Linked DNA regions of Homo sapiens: region 2 is linked to region 1. A link means that fine-mapping ties the variant in region 1 to the expression of a gene that starts in the linked region. Tissue or cell type: cerebellar hemisphere. Region 1 holds a variant in brackets; the other region holds the start of a gene. All regions are shown on one strand. Distances are from middle to middle.

The links. PIP is the estimated chance that this variant, and not a neighbour inherited with it, causes the effect.
Region 2: KDF1 starts here. The variant in region 1 is fine-mapped to the expression of KDF1 in cerebellar hemisphere (GTEx, PIP 0.99).

What each region holds. Positions count from the first base shown.
Region 1 is chr1:26,833,654-26,836,405 of GRCh38, forward strand. All of the region lies in intron 2 of ZDHHC18 (zDHHC palmitoyltransferase 18), which reads left to right. Among named protein-coding and RNA genes, the nearest start is that of ZDHHC18, 8.3 kb to the left of the region's middle. RefSeq lists an enhancer at 76-175. The variant C/T (reference allele first, on the strand shown) is at 1,526.
Region 2 is chr1:26,959,101-26,961,726 of GRCh38, forward strand. KDF1 (keratinocyte differentiation factor 1) reads right to left here and starts at 1,368. Exons shown (of 4, transcript NM_152365.3): 1 at 1,250-1,368. RefSeq lists an enhancer at 806-1,488 and a silencer at 2,358-2,626.

The DNA of each region.
Region 1 (2,752 bases):
CCTAATCTCAGCTTGCTGCACCCCAGCTCTTCCTGCTGAGAAGTGACGTGGCTACTTGCACACCTCGGGGGTTTCCGGTCCGTGGTTAGCTCCTTCCCCTAACAGCATGGTGTTCACACAGGCTTTTAAACACCCAGCTGGCCCTGAAGACATCTAGTGGCCTGTAAATGTCAGAGCCCTGCTGCATCCATCGCTAGAAATCATTTCACTAATACTCTGTGCAGCAGGGAGGGAGGGAGGGCGAGCAGCTGGAGAGGATGTTCTCTGGGCTCTGTCTGCTCTTTGTCTCATTCCTCTGCCCAGCCCCATCCTCAGCCACGCCTGCGAGGGCCACCTCCTCTCACCTACATCCAGCGTCCTACCCCTTCAAACTCTGGGTCCCTGGCCACTCCTTCAGGATCCCACGGTCTGACCTGGGCTGGCCCACCTGGCAGCTGGGGAGGCCCAGCTGTGCCCCGTTCTTCCTCCCCTTCTGGTCAGGGCTAATCATGAGGCAGGATTATTGTCCAGCTCAGCCGGACCCAGAGGTCTGGCTGCCTGGAATCCTCGGCCTCCTGTGAGCTGCGTGGATCACAGTGACAGCAGTAATCCCCTTCTTGGAAAGAGCTTGGCCGTGTGCTGAGTGCTTTCCATCTATTATCCCCACAAATCTTCACAACAGCCCAGTGAGGGCGACCCTGTTAACCAATTGTACTGATGGAGAAACGGAGGCAGGTGATCACAGGGCCAGGATAAAGAAGCAGAGACAGAGTGTGTGCCTTTCACTCCCAAACCCCTTGCTTTCTCTTCTGAGATGGCAGCAGGGACACATCTCCTTCATCCTCTTCTCCACTTGTTTCCTGTGCTCTGGGAAGCCTTCTTGACCCCAGTTGGGCCAGGCCTTCCATTGCACATTCCCAGAGCACCTTCTCCTTCCTTCTCTGAACCTGTGCTGCAACGGTGGTCATTACAAAATCATCCTTTCTGCTGGCCTGTGAGGGCATGGAATTCCAGCATCTTGTTCACCTTGTCGCCATGTAGAAGGCTCAGTGACGTTGGCTAAATGAGTAAATGAATGACTGAAGAATAGGTGAGCTTCTGTGAAGGCCCTCCTTGCTCTGTCAGGGTGACAGGTGAGGAAACAGTCAGGACATCTCCCAGTTGGGCATCATGGGTTTGTTCATTTGTGTGTTAATTCTATATGCTGACCCCTGACAGCAGAGTGAAGGCAGGTGGGGGCCAACAATGAATCTGATAGGAGCTTACTCTCATGGGTTCCAGACAAGTTGGCCCCAGGTGGGAGCCCTGACCAGCCACTGCCAGTGAGATCAGGCTTTAGAAGAGGGTCAGAGGAGTCAGGAGCATCTTCTGCCTGGGGGACTGGAGAAGCTTCCTGGAGAAGTGATGCTTGAGCTAAGTCTTTAAGTTTGGGTGGAATTCAAGCACAGGAGCTGTGCGGAGGCAGCCCTTCAGGCAGACAAAGCTGAGGGAAGAGAGAGTGGCAGAGGGAAGGAGGAGGGATGGGAACGGGCCACTGAGCAGGCCA[C/T]GTTGGCTAGAATATGAGGAGCACTTCAGATAGTTAGGGATATTAGAGATATTCCAGTTGGAAGGATGGGGTGGAATCAATCTTGTAGGGCGCTGAATGTCCCTAAGACTTTTCTTGGCGAACAGGTGCAAAGTGCAAAAGTGGCATTTTGGAGGCCTTTGAATTCTCAAACTTGAATAGAAGCCAAATTTTTGGGTGTGACCAGGAGACTTCTAACTAATTAAAGTAAAACATATTTCCCAGGGCTGGCACAGTGGCTCACGCCTGTAATCCCAGCACTTTGGGAGGCCGAGGCGGGCGGATCACAAGGTCAGGAGATTGAGACCATCCTGGCCAACATGGTGAAACCCTGTCTCTAGTAAAAATACAAAAATTAGCTGGGCATGGTGGCGTGTGCCTGTAATCCCAGCTACTCAGGAGGCTGAGGCAGAATAATCGCTTGAACCAGGGAGTCGGAGGTTGCAGTGAGCCAAGGTTGCGCCATTGCACTCCAGCCTGGTGACAGAGCAAGACTCCGTCTCAAAAAACAAAAAAAACCAAAAACATATTTCCCCGAAAATGATCAGGACTAAGATCACTGAACCTTTTCCAGAAGGTTGGGAGCTGTCTCTGAGGCAGGTGGTGCTGTTCATGTGAGCATGAACTGATTACCTGGTCCTAGGCTCATGTAGACAGTGTGGGCTTTTCCCTTTGGCACCCCAGCCCAGCAACTCCAGCCCAACAGGTCTGGCCCAGGGCTCCTGCCCTGTGGGGACAGTCTGAGGTAGAGTGACCAGCTCCTCCCAGTTTACCCAGGACCACCTGGAAAGTCTCCTGTCTTAGGAAACCACTCAATCCCAGGAAAATCAGGGCACTCGGTCACCCTCATCTGAGATCCTGTCTTGCCGGCTGGTGGGCTGTGCAGCTGGCTCACCCTGCAGGCTCTAGGCAGTTGGGAAGAGCAATATTGCTCCCAGAAGCTCCTGGTCTGATGGGAGGTGATAGAGACATCCAAATCCAAGTGACAGATGCTCACTTAGACCCTGTTACAGTTCACATGACGGACACAGAGGCTGCGTCTCTCTCCACTGCCATACACCAGCTCCCAGACCCCATCTCCTTTGTCTCCAGGACGTCTCTGCCCACTTCCCCTGGACAGACCTGCCTCGTGTTCCACCTGAACTGGCTCAGGGCTCTGCAGAACAGGCCCTGACTGGGCCTTTCCCTTCAATTGTAGTTATCTCTCCA
Region 2 (2,626 bases), 130 kb after region 1:
GGCCCAGAGACACCTAGCAAGAGAGGGCTGGAGTAAGATTTGCACTGTGGCCCGCCAGGCTCTGAAGCCTGCGTACTTTGTGTGTGCCACACATCTCCAGCGGTGGTGGGATGAGAAGAGAAGACCTGGGATAAGGACAATGCCTGCCTCAGTTCCCCACTTCCCTCCAGCCATTGAACCCTCCTGAAGTCAAACTCAGGCAGTTTCTTCCAGGCTGTATCTCCCCGACCCTGCTGCCACCGCCCCGCCACCACCCCGCCCAATCCTAGGAACCTGGTCACTTGGTTTAGTGAGGGGAGACTCCCTGTCCCTATTGTGGCTTGAGGCAAGATTCTTAACCTCACTTTCCTCATCTTTAAATAAGGAGAGACTAGTATCTTCATGCCCCGCCAATCCCGTGAGATTTAAATGAAATATTGAGTGCAGGGGGCTTCCCGCAGTGGCCTTGCCCATGGGAGGGGCTAGGTCACTAGGCGATCTAAGGCACCGCAAGGATGTTCCCGGGGGTCAGAGGGTCCCGGCCCGCCCTCCCTGGATTTCTCGTTGATGCTTTCCTCTTCCCCCTTAGTCCCGCGAACACACACACACACTCAAGGGTCTATGTACCGTCCCCTCCTCCGAGGGTCCCCAGGACAGGCCCGGCCGCACCAGCCTCTGCCCCCAGCCCAGTGCCAAGCCTCGGACACCCGGCCGGGGAGGACCACCCCAGTCCTGCTCGAGAAACAGCCGTCGGCTCAGTGCACCCTCGGCCTCCTGCCCCAAAGGTGCAGCCCGAGAGTCCCATATCCGCGGGCAGCTAGTCCTGGGGACAAGGAAGAACCAGATCCTGGCACTGTCCCCCGGGCTACCACAGCCCCTACACCAACTCTGCCCTCGGGGCGAGCACTACCCTCTCCAGCTGCAAGGGCCCTACCCCGCGGGCGGACCCAGCCTCCCTCCCGTCCCGACGCTGTTCCTCGGGGTGAGCACCAGCGTTTGTCCCATCCCGACGCTGCCCCCCGGTGAGTGCGGCCCCCGCACCCAGCCAGTGCAGCCCTAAGGGCGAACGCGGCCCCTCACCCCATTCTGCGCGCCCAGCCCGGGCGCCCGCTCAGGCCGCTCCCCAGCCCGGCCCGCGCACCCCGGAAGTAGGAGGGTGGCCCCCGAGGAACCGGGCCCGGGACCCTCTCCTGTCCGGGCTCAGCTTCGGGGGGCTCCCGACACCGGCGCCGCCCTGGCTTGCGCCCCCCTGGGCCCGCGCCGGGCTTACCTGTCCCGCCAGGTGAGCCGCCTCCGGCTCAGCCCCTCCCCCGCCCCCTCGCCGCTCACCTGGGGCGCAGGTGAGCGTCTCGCGGGAGCGCTGCACGGGCCGCCGCTAGGGACACACTTCCTGCCTCCGCGAAGCGCTACCGCGCACCTGGACCGAGGCCCCGCCCCGGGGCTCTGCAGAGCTGCGCGTCCCCGCTCGAGTGCTCGGCCCGTTCAGCCTAGTCCGGGTAGGTGAGGTGTGGCGGGGAGGGGTCGAGAGGCGCTGGGGCTCAGTCTCCTCTTCTGTTCAACAGGCTGGTGGTCCTGTCAGTCTCTGAGCACCTGTGGAACTTCTGCCCGGCCGTAAAGCTCCAACTCAAAGGGAAGCTCTCTTCTGGGAAGCTTTCCCTGATCCTGTCTGTTTTTCTGTTGGTTAGAACAGTCCCTGTACTCAGCACACTGTCGTTTTGTTGTCTTCTGTCTCCTCCTTTAGCCTCCTACCTTGCAGGGTTTGGTCTTGTTCCCCTGTGTTCCTGGTGCTCAGCACAGGTCCTGGCACATACTAGGTGTTCAACAAATATTTTCCACTGAATGAGGCCCTGGGCCCCAATTTCTCCCTTTGCCCTGAGGCAGAACTGGGAGCCTGGGCCGCTGATCAGTTTACCTTTTCTTTTGTTCAGAGAAATCTGCAGGTAAAGACAGGAACCTCAGCTCTGAGGCCCCGAGTAGGGTAGAGGAGGGGGACCGGATATGCAGCTCTGAAAGATACATCCAGGATCAGAAGTGGTGGCCAAAATGGGCCATGGTCACTACATCCAAAAAAGGTCTCTGCAAGAGGCAACACCATTGAATGTCAATAAGGCAAGGCTCAGACTATTCTGGGTTACTGTTCCCCTTAATATTAATAACAACTCAATAACTTAACAATAGCATTAATAAACAAGTGACTTGGCCGGGCGCAGTGGCTCATGCCTGTAATCCCAGCACTTTGGGAGGCCGAGGCGGGAGGATCGCGAGGTGGGAGTTTGAGACCAGCCTGGCCAACATAGTGAAACCCAGTCTCTACTAAAAATACAAAAAATTAGCCTAGCATGGTAGCAAGTGCCTGTAATCCCAGCTACTCGGGAGGCTGAGGCAGGAGAATGGCTTGAACCCAGCAGGCAGAGGTTGCAGTGAGCCGAGATCGCGCCATTGCACTCCAGCCTGGGCGACAGAGCGAGACTCTGTCTCAAATAAACAAAACAAACAAACAAACAAGTGACTTTTAGGGAGCATCTCCAGGAGCCATGCATGCCGAAGCCGTTAATCTGTGAAGTGGGTCAGGTATTATCATATCCATTTTACAGTAAGAGGAAACTGAAGCTTAGAGAGGGGACATTGTTTGCTCAGGCAGTTGGCA